3 linked regions of the Homo sapiens genome follow. The protein of the gene in region 1 purifies or fractionates together with the protein of each later gene. This does not show direct contact. Each region holds a gene or a part of one and is shown in the gene's direction. Other genes may lie near its edges.

Region 1 (3,650 bases):
AGGCGTGCGCCACCACGCCCAGCTAATTTTTGTATTTTTAGTGGAGATGGGGTTTCACCATGTTGGCCAGGATAGTCTCGATCTCTTGACCTCGTGATCTGCCCACCTTGGCCTCCCAAAGTGATGGGATTACCGCACCTGGCCCCATGCCTGGTAATTTTTGATTGGATACTTGACACTGGAAATTTTACATTATTGGGTGCTGTATTAGTCCATTTTCACGCTGCTGATAAAGACATACCCGAGACTGGGCAATTTACAAAAGAAAGAGGTTTAACTGGACTTACAGTTCCACGTGGCTGGGGAAGCCTCACAATTGTGGAAGAAGGCAAAGAGGGGCAAGTCACATCTTCTATGGATGGCAGCAGGCAGAGACAGGAGAGCTTGTGCAGGGAAACTCCCCTTTTTAAAACCATCAGATCTCATGAGACTCATTCACTCAGTATCACAGGAACAGCTCAGGAAAGACCCAATCACCTCCCACCTGGTTCCTCCCATGACATGTGGGATTGTGGGAGTTACAATTCAAGATGAGATTTGGGTGGGGACACAACCAAACCACATCAGGTGCTGTATATTTTTGTGTTTCTATAAATGTTCTTGAACTTTTTTCTGGGAAGACAACTGAGTTACTTAGAAACGGTTTCATCCTTCTGGATCTTGCTTTTAAGATTTTGTTAGATGAAACCAGAGCAGTGTTTAGTCTGAAACTAACTACTCACTACTGATGTAATATCTTACTGGGTATCTTACCCCATGCCCTGTGAAATATGAGGTACAAACAGGCCCTAGTTATGACTCGGAGTGAAGATGAGGTGCTGATAACTCTGATCCTTTTGGGTCGTTTTTTTCCCCCAACCTTGGATAGTTTCCTGACAAATACATGCCAATCAGTCTTCTGCTAAATAGTCCAGGGTAAATCCTCTGCAAATCTCTAGAGTTCTCTCTCTTTCTGTAGTTTTTTCCTCTCAGGTACATCCTGAAGCTCTAGATGTCTTGCTCTCTCTGGTGTCTCAACTCCAGTTCCTCAATTCAGGGATTCTACCAGGTCCCATCTGGATTCCTCTTCTCCGCAGTCTGGAAACTCTTTAAGGCTGTAAGCAAGGGCAGTTGCAGGGTTCACTATTCATTTATTTTCTGTCTTTCAGGGCTCACTTCTCTTGTTGCTTCATGCCCTGTGTCATAGAGACCATCGTTTATTCATTTTGGCTAGTTTTTTGGTTATTTCAGGTAGGAGGATAAATTCAGTCCCTGTTACTTTATTTTGGCCAGAAACAGAAGTTCTTAATGGTGTCTTTTATAAATAAAAATTTCAATTTTCATGAAGTCTGATTTATTAATCTTTTATTTTTATGGTCAGTGCTGTGTGTGTTCTGCCTTAAAAAAAACTTTTGCTTACTTGGAGATCATAAAACTATTTCTTTATGTTTTCTTTTAGAAGATTTATTGCTTTGTGTTTCTGGTATATGTCTAGAATTAATTATTGTACATAGTGTAGGGTTTAAGGACCTTTAAAACTTTTTCACATATGAATTACAGTTGATCCAGCACTAATTGTTATACCATGCAAACCCCAACCAAAAGTAACCTGGTATAACAATATTAATGTCAGACCAAATAGATGTTAAAGCAAGATGTGTTATTAGGGATAAATAGGAATATTTTGTAATGTTAAAAGAGTCAGTGCAACAACAAGAAGACATACCAATTCTAAATCTGTATGTGTCTAGAACATAGCTTTAAAATATGTAAAGTGAAAATTTTGAAACACAACTCTTGAGCAGAGAGACAAAAATCCTATACAAAATGTTAGCAAATCAAATCTGGCAATATGTAAAAATATGTAAAAATATGATATAACATCATGACTAAATGGGATTTATTCCAGGAGCATGTTTATTTATCACATTAACAAAGTGAAGGAGGAAAATGCTATTAACTTAATGAGTAAGGAAAACAGTTCGATAAAATGTACCACCTGTTCATAAAAAAGACATATTAGCAAACTAGTAATAGAAAATAATTTCTTTAATCTAATAAAGGATATCTATCAATACTCTGTAGCCACATCGTACTTAATGGTGCAATAGTGATCACTCCCCCACCTCCCCTAAGATTAGAAGCAAGATAAGGATGTCCAGTGTTACCACTTTTATAAATGAATTTAGCAAGGTTGCCAAATACATGTAAGATCAATATTTTTAAAATCAACTCTATTTCTATAAAGTAGCAACAATTAAAAATTGAAAATTTAAAAGATACCACTTAGAATAGCATCAAATGCCTAGGAATAAACCTAACAAAAGATGTGCAAGATTCTACACTCAGAACTACAAAACATTGCTCAGAAAAATTCAAGGCCTGTATAAATGGAGCAATATATAATAGTCATGGACTGGAAAACAATATAATTATCTTAATTCTCCCCCAAATCCAATTAATTACAGTCAAAATTCCAGCAAGTTTTTTTTTTGTTTTGTTTTTTTTGGTGGAGGAGGGATGGGGGAGATTGATAAGCTTTAAAATTACAATGTGTCACTTAATGACAGGGATACATTCTGAGAAACGGGTTAGGAAATTTTGTCGTTATGAATATCATAGAGTATACTTAAACAAACTTAGATAATACAGCCTACTACACACCTAGGCTGTGCAGTAAAGCCTGTTGCTCTTAGGCTACAGCCCTGTACCGTGTGTTACTGTATCCAGTTGTAACACAATGCTAAGTATTTGTGTATCTAAATATAGAAAAGTTTCATTAAAATGCACCATTAAAGGCAAAAAATGGTATACCTGAATGGGACACTTACCATGAATAGAACGTGCAGAACTGGAAGTTGCCTTGGGTGAGTCAGCGAGTGAGTGGTGAGTGAATGTGAAGGCCCAGGAGGCTGCTATACATTACTGTAGACATTACAAACATTGTACACATAGGCTACACTAAATTGTTTTATAAAAGTAATTTTTTACTTTATGATGTTATGACATTACTGGGAATTATTTAGCTCTGCTATAATCTTATAGGACTACTGTCATATATGTGGTCCATTGTTGATCAAAATGTCATTATGTGGTGCATGATTGCATATGAAAATACAAAGGATCTAGAACAGCAACTAAGAAAGCTCGAGTAATGAAGATAGTGTGGTGTTGTCCAAGGATAAATAGATAAGTAGAGCAGAATAGAGCCCACAAACAGATCCACTGAGAAACAATCACCTAACTTATGATAAATCTGGCAATATAATGCAGTGGAGAAAGGATCGTGTTTTCAACAACCTATTCCTTTTAAACTTTTTGTGTCTCTATATTTAAAGTGTATCTCTTATATATTATGTAATTTTGTCTTCTTAGTAATCCAAACTGAAAATCTTTGCCTTTTAACTAGTGCTTAGTTCATTTACGTTTAATGTAATTCCTAATATAGTTGGGTTTTTAATTTGTTCTTCCTTTCTTGCCTTCTTTTGGATGGAATCTTTTTTTTATTAATCTCTCCATTTTATATTCATCTACATTTTTATTTACATTATGCCTTTTGTAACTATTTTTAGATGGTTGATTACATAAACTTTTCTTTTCAAATGATTGTCAAGTCGTGGTATAACAGAACTACTCCCTTGAAGGTGAAATAGAGTGCAAATAACAGATAC
Region 2 (3,650 bases), on another chromosome or scaffold:
TGTGGATGGTTGGTTACATGGTATATGGATTATGTGACTCTGCACACTCTTCAGGCCACAGCTGCTGGTGCTGGTGCGTGTGGACCAAGACCAGAATGTGGTGCACCCCCAGCTGCTCTCACTGACCTCCCAGCTGAAGGCGGGGAAGGGCCTGACCATCGTGGGCTCTGTCCTTGAGGGCACCTTTCTGGAAAATCATCCACAGGCCCAGCGGGCAGAAGAGGTGAGCAGAGGCCCTGGTTGGGCTTGGGAAAAGGTCAGGACACTTAGGAAGACAGTCTCTATCCTTTTGTACTTTCCTTCCTCATCACCTTCAGGATCAAAGGAAGTGCAGGCATTTCTTTTCTTTTCCTTAGAGGAAGAGCCTAAGAGCCTAGACAGTGAGTTCTTTAGAATTCAACTCACAGCATGAAAGACCATCAGAGGCAGAAGGGCCCATTTTATGGATAAGGAAACTGAGGCTTAGACAAGTCAGGTCATATGTCTAAGGACAGAAAATGAAGATTCAAATTAGGACTCCTTGAACTCCTACTCTAGACTCCTTCCTGCCAAAGTATAAATCTTTCAAGGTGATTTCCCAGCTGTGGACTCTTGATCCCTACAGTCTGGGGTTGACAAGGTGAGTATCCACATTTGATACAGGAAGAAACTGAGACCCAGAGAGGGAAAGCTGCTTGCTGAAAGTCGGAAAGCTGCTTGCTGAAAGTCAGAAAGCTGGTGGGAAGCAACATCAGGATTTGAACTCAGGCCCCTGCTCTGTGTCACCTGCTCTTGGTTCCACCCACTAGTCCATGCTTACAGGGCAGCCTACAGAACCAATGTGGGCTGTGGTGGCCAGTGTCTGCCTTAAGCACACAAAGAGGTGATTGGATCCCAAGGGTAGTAGAGGAAGTAGGTTCTGTCTGAGGGTCAGGCCTTTCTCCCATCAGGGCTGTGGCTAGCAGTGGAGAGAGAAAAAGAGGCCCGAAGGAGCAGAGGTGAGATGGGGAGGGGCACCCCGATGGCTTGCGACAGTCGCTGCTTCTGCCTCACTGGGCTGTTCACACTGATCTGTCAGGGCCCAGAGCTGGAGGCCTTGACTGGTCAGTTCCATTCAACACGCGGTGGCTGAGAATGTGCAGTGCACCAGGCACTGGGCGAGGCACAGGGGAGATGGAGATGTTCAAGACCAAGTCCCAGCCCTCGAGGTGCTCACAGGCTGGTGGGGAAGGCAGAGCATACACAGAAGGCTCTCAGACCCACCGGATGTCGATAAATGCTGTTAGAGTTAATAACATCAGGGTCGTACAATGTGTTGAGTGTTTTCAATTCCTCAGGCAGGATACTAACTAAGCCCTATGTGCATGATGACATGTGGTTCTCCCTATTCCTAAACAAGGTAGCTTGTCCTGACCCCTTGGGTGGTTAGGTGACTCACCCAAGGTCACACAGCCAGGAGGTGGCAGAGATAGGAGTTGAACTTCTATCTGTTTGACTTAGGGGTGGTGGTTAAGAGTGTGGGGGTTGGAGTCAGACTTCCCTGACTTGAATCCTCACAGTAACATTAGCTGTGTGTCCTTAAACAAGTCTTCCTTTCTCCAAGCCTCAGTTTCCCCATCTATAAAATGGGAGTAATAAGACTATTTCCCTCATAGTACAGTTTAAATGGGAGCCCTTAAAATACTTATTATGCTACTTAGAAAGATTGTTGAAACAAATTGTCTGGCTGTGCAGAGAAGCCCAGTTTAATTCTGGTCTGGGTGGGGGTGGTATCTGAAGACGGCGACATTTGAGCTGGGCCAGACAGGGTGTCATGTACAACTTGGCAGGGGCTTGTGTCAGGGTGATGGTGGAGAGCATGTCGGGCAGGGGGGCTGTATGAGCAGTGGGAGGGTGGCAGAAAGTGTGGTCAGATCATGAAGAGCCTTGATTGATCAAGAAGGAATGGGGCACAGAGATGATGGGGAGCCATGTGCCATTCTGGAGCCAGAGACTGACGTGATCAGAGCTGAGCTTCAGGAAGATTGGGATGAAAGGAGGGGAGAGATGGGAGGGAAGGAGGCTACAATGGGCCCAGCCAGGGCCAGGGAGGCCTGAGGCTGGTCCTTGTCTTTTCCCCCTCCCCTAGTCTATCAGGCGCCTGATGGAGGCAGAGAAGGTGAAGGGCTTCTGCCAGGTGGTGATCTCCTCCAACTTGCGTGATGGCGTGTCCCATCTGATCCAGTCCGGGGGCCTCGGGGGGCTGCAGCACAACACTGTGCTTGTTGGCTGGCCCCGCAACTGGCGCCAGAAGGAAGATCATCAGACGTGGAGGAACTTCATTGGTAACGCTATTGGGGGCTGGGGACAGAAGAGGGGTGGGGCTGGGGGCTGTAGAGGGGTGGAACTGGATTTCCGCTCCTTTGGGCCTGAGGGGTTTCCCAAGCACTGCGTGCCAAGTGTGGATTCAGCATATGCAGGTGACAGCAGTCAAGGCTGGCCACGTGCCAGCCACTGTGCTGGGCGCTGGGGACTCCGCTGTGAACGAGACAGTCTTGGCTCCTGCAGCGCTCACAGGCCCTGGGAGGAACACAGTGCAGGGCAGTGGGAAGAGCTACAGCTCTGAAGTCACAGAGGCTAGGCCCACATCTCAGCTCTGGTCCTTCCTAGCTGTGTGACTGTGCACACGTGACTCACTCCCTCTGAGATCAGATTTCTTGGTAATCGTAGGTAATAGTATATATAATAACTAACGTTTCTAGAATGAGTTCTGTGTGCCAGCAAGTTAAGGCTTTCTCTGATTCTCTCATCAGTCCTAGGAGGGCTACGCATTGTTATCTCCATCTTTTTTGATGTGAAACTGAGGCACAGAGAGATTAAGAAGTTTGCTCCAGCTGGGTTCGGTGGCTCACGCCTGTAATCCCAGCACTTTGGGAAGCCAAGGCAGGTGGATCGCTTGCGCTCAGGAGTTTGAGCTGGGCAACCTGGCAAACTACAGAGTAAATGAAAAAGAAGTTTGCTCCAAGTCACAAAGTGGGGAGCCAGGTTTTGAACCAGCCCGGAGGCTACACTGTTAGCTCCAAGCTATTCTGTCTCCTTTATAGGTAGATCATGGTTACAAGGTGTTGGGAGGATTCAGTGTGGTCATACATGATGGGCTCTTAGTAATCAGAAAGGGCAGGTGGTGTTATTGCCATTTGACAGGTGGGGAAACTGAGGCCTAGAGAGGTTGATAGACGTTCCTAGATCTAAACAATAAATATATGATGGGGCCCAAGTAGATGCTGGTTTTCTGACCACTCAGCCCATGGCCAAGGCCAGTTGGAGTGGGGTGGAGTGCTGGCTGCCAGGAGCCCTTGTGGCTGCTGCTGGGTGTTGGGAGAACCAGAGTCACTGTTTCCCCCTCTGGCCCTCTCCTTGGCCTCCCTCAGAGCTGGTCCGGGAAACCACAGCTGGCCACTTAGCCCTGCTGGTCACCAAGAACGTTTCCATGTTTCCTGGGAACCCTGAGCGCTTCTCTGAGGGCAGCATCGACGTTTGGTGGATTGTGCACGATGGAGGCATGCTCATGCTGCTGCCCTTCCTGCTGCGGCACCACAAGGTGAGTTGTGTGCGTGAGTGTATGCACGTGTGAGTGTGTGTATGCATGTATGCATTTGTGTGCATATGTGCACAACTGCAGGTCAGACTCA
Region 3 (3,750 bases), on another chromosome or scaffold:
TGCCCAGCTCAGAGCTTAGGCATATAGTAGGGGCTGTCTTACAGGGGGAGGATCTGGCTCGCAGGTACAGATGTGGGCACTGCAGACACGGAGGTGCAGAAAGATGCAGGTAAAGAAGGAAGAGAATGCCAGGCATGGTGGCCCAGGCCTGTAATCTCAGCACTTTGGGAGGCTGAGGCAGGAGGATCGCTTGACCCTAGGAGTTCAAAACCAGCCTGGACAACATAGTGAGACCCTGTCTCTACAAAAAATAAAATTAGCCAGGTGTGGTGGCGCGTGCCTGTAGTCCCAGCTACTCAGGAGGCTGAGGTGGGAGGATCACTTGAGCCTGGGACGTTGAGGCTGCAGTGAGCCGAGATTGCACCACTGTACTCTAGCCTGGGCAACAGAATGAGACCCTAACTCAAAAAAAAAAAAAAAGAGAGAATGGACGGAGCCCAGGGAACCCTGAGGTTGAAGGGCTGTGGGAAAAAAGGTAAGGACCTGGAAAGAGGCTGGGAGACAACACTCACAGATCAGGTTGGGGGGTAGGTGGGCGGAGCACCACAGACAGGAGGGTTTCAGGAAGAGGGGCTCATCAGGGTCACATGCTGCTGAGAGGTCAGGGATGGTAAGGCCCGACTGGCGGTGTGGGATGAGGGTTTATCAGACACAGATTTGGCACCAAGGAGGTCACTGGGTACCTGGCAAGAGAATGCCGGGTGCGGTGGCCCAGGCATGGAATCCCAGCACTTTGGGAGGCTGAGGCAGGAGGATCGATTGAGAGTCAAGACCTGTCCCATTGGGGACCGGCGCCCCATTGCAGGGGGTGGGAGGAGCTGGTGTGGTGTAAGGATGGGGAGAGGAGAGGTGGGCATCAGAACAGGAGGTCACTCAGACCCTCAGGGGCACCTGATTTCCCCTCCCACTAAGGACAAATTTCATGTTCAACAGTCAGAGCCATCTGCAGATGGGCCAAGAGGTCCTGGGAGGTAGTGAGCACCCTGTCCCTGGAGGCAGACAAGCAGAGCTCCGAGACCCACCGCGGCGGGAGAGGCCCAGGCTGTGCAACACAAGCCCCGTGTCCTTCTCAGCAAGCACCTGGCTGGTTCCCTGCATCGTAAAAACCACACAGAGGGTCGGTCTTTCTATTTATAGTGTCCAAAGAGCCTCCTGCAAGAACACACATGGGCTCGCACCCAGAGGTGGTCGGCGCGCAGCCTCACGCAGACACCAGACACAAAACACAGCCGCGATCTGTGTCTCCTGGAAAGGGATCCACATCCTGGCTCCCAGGTTATTCCCTGAATTCATTCCGTCACCCCCTCTTTCCGCCGGGCCACCCCACCCCCCGGGCCACCCTAGCATCTCCGCTTGGCTCTCCGCATCTCTCCCTGCTCCTCGGGCTCTGCCCACCCCCACCCGCCTCCAGGCCTCTCCCGCCCCCTCCTCGGGTGTCCCCCAAGCCCGTGACTACAACCCCCAGGCGCCCCCGGCCCGGGTGCTGCGCATGCCCCCTGCTCCTTGCGCGCTCCCGCTCCCCCCGCCCTCGCTTCCTCCTCACCTCCCTCCGCCCCCCTCCCCCGCGCTCGGCTCCCGCATCCCTCCATCCTACCCTGTGCCGCAGCCGCATCGCCACCGCAGCCCGGCAGAGCCGAGCCCGGCCCAGGCCCCTGCCCCTGCCCGGCCCTCGGCCAGTCGCCCCCGGCCCCGCCCCCGCCCGCAGGCCCCCCGCAGCGGCCGCGGCGCCCCCCGGCGCCCCCAGACCCCGGCCTCCGGCACAGAGGCGGGAGACCCGGAGCAGCAGCAGAGGCAGGAGGACTAGGAGGAGGAGGAGGAGCCGTCGCAGGATGAAGGATCGGACTCAAGAGCTGCGGAGTGTGAGCTTGGGGGTGGGGAGAATGGGGGGGCGGGACCCCAATATTGGGGGAGCGCGTGGGGATGGAGTGGGGGAGGTGCTGGGACGTGGGGGCGAAGGATGAGATCGGAGGTTGGTAGCCGGAGCACCCCAGTATCTTCAGGCGCCTGATGTCTCTCCAGTGAACCTGCATTTTGGGGACAGTGCCTGGAAGGGGTTGGAGGCCATGAAGACACAAGGGGGCAGGAGAGGTCTCAGGGGCCTCGAACACCCCGCATTCCCAGGAGGGCCCCGGGGTCTGGTCTGGGGATGGGAGAGAGTGGATATCAGGAGAAACCGGAGGAGACTGTCATCCCCTGGGCAGGTTTGCCAAAGAGAAGCATGGGGGCGGTGACTGGGCCAGGCTGAGAGTCTAGCAGGACCCAGATTCAGGGGATGCTACGGGGAAGGACACAGGTTGGGACTGAGATGCCAGCACCTGGCAGTGAATGAAGTGTGTGTGTGTGTGCACACGCGTGTGTCACTCCCTATAGGGAGGGGGCATCTCTCCGAGACAGGGAGGGAAGAGGTGGCCTCCGGAGAGAGCCAGAGGGCCAGGGCCTGAGACAGGGTGACCCAGAGGTGGGAGATGGGGATGCAGAGGAGAGGGCCATGGAACACGGGCCGTGCTCTGCTTGGGGGAACTGGGGCACCCCGGGCAGTCAAGGGCTGATGCAGGCCCCAGGTCTGCAGGCCTGAAGAGGCCCGGCTCCAAGAGTCTGGCCAGGCAGTCCCTGGTTTTGGGGGGACAGGGGAAGGACTGCAGTGGAGGCTGCTACCTGGAGGAACTGGGGAGTGGGGTTCGATGAGAATGGTTTCAGGGGCAGGGAGGACGCTGGGGTATTTGGAGAAATGACCTGGGGCCCGAGGAGGCAGCACTGACAGTCCGCACTGTGCTGGGCTGGTGGTGTTATGTTAATAAGGGTACCGGCCCCGGCTGAGCTGCCCAATGCACTGAGCCTTTACAGGGAACTGGTGGGTTGTTACCCCAGGGGTTATTACCCCACTTGACAGATGAGGAAACTGAGATTCAGGCGTGGGAAGGGACTTGTCCAAGGTCACCAAGCAAGTGGGTGGGGGGCAGACTGCAATCTGGGTTTCCTGTCTGCTAGGTTGACACAGGTCTCTGCTTTTCTGGCCTTTGAAACAGAAGTTTCAGCACTGGGGGTGAAGAGCTGTCCCCTGGATTTGGGGGTGGGGACCCAGGTTACAGACAGACGAGAAGAAGGTGTTTGGAGGCAAGTGACCGCTGTCTCTGGGGACAGACAGGTTGCCAAATGGGAAGCAAGGAGGAGCTGGTGGCTGAGGGAGGGAATTTTAAAGGTTTCTTTATTACATTTTTACTGAATATACACTCAGGCATGAGGAAAGTGACAGTAATAATAAACATTGTTTGAAGTGTTTTATGCATATTCACTCATTTTGATCCTCACAGCAATCCTATGAGACTGGTTATCTCATTTCATAGATATATAAATATCTTTTTAGATATATAGATATATGTTATCTCATTTTATAGATAAGGACACTAAGCTCAGAGAGGTTAAGTAATTAGACCAAAGTCACACAGCTGGTAAAGGCAGGATTCAAACCCAGGCAGGCCGGCTTCAGCATCGGTGCTGTCAATTCCCCTCCTCAGTTTGCAGAGCAGGCTTTCATCCGTGATGTCATTAGAGCCCCACTGACCTCCTGGCAAGTGGACGGGGAGGCTCTTTCATTTTAGAGTTGGGGAAACTGAGGCCCAGAGTGGTTGAATAACTTTCCAAAGGTCACACAGCTAGCAGGTGAGGGATCCGGACTTGAACCCAGTTCCCCTGCTACCAGGACTATTCCATGACTCCAAAACCCAGGGAAATGGAAGTGGGTTGGGATCA

What was found.
Region 2: the proteins of NUFIP1 (region 1) and SLC12A5 purify together in Homo sapiens (affinity purification with mass spectrometry; 3 studies listed by BioGRID and IntAct, with this or other methods). This does not show direct contact.
Region 3: the proteins of NUFIP1 (region 1) and STX1B purify together in Homo sapiens (affinity purification with mass spectrometry; 3 studies listed by BioGRID and IntAct, with this or other methods). This does not show direct contact.

The regions. Positions count from the first base shown.
Region 1 is NC_000013.11:44,961,921-44,965,570, reverse strand, and holds part of NUFIP1 (FMR1-interacting protein NUFIP1), read left to right. Parts: intron 1-3,650. UniProt on the Homo sapiens protein: Binds RNA.
Region 2 is NC_000020.11:46,049,568-46,053,217, forward strand, and holds part of SLC12A5 (solute carrier family 12 member 5), read left to right. Parts: intron 1-54; coding exon 55-223; intron 224-2,107; coding exon 2,108-2,303; intron 2,304-3,389; coding exon 3,390-3,559; intron 3,560-3,650. UniProt on the Homo sapiens protein: Mediates electroneutral potassium-chloride cotransport in mature neurons and is required for neuronal Cl(-) homeostasis.
Region 3 is NC_000016.10:31,008,476-31,012,225, reverse strand, and holds the start of STX1B (syntaxin-1B), read left to right. Parts: upstream 1-1,587; 5' UTR 1,588-1,829; coding exon 1,830-1,859; intron 1,860-3,750. UniProt on the Homo sapiens protein: Potentially involved in docking of synaptic vesicles at presynaptic active zones. May mediate Ca(2+)-regulation of exocytosis acrosomal reaction in sperm.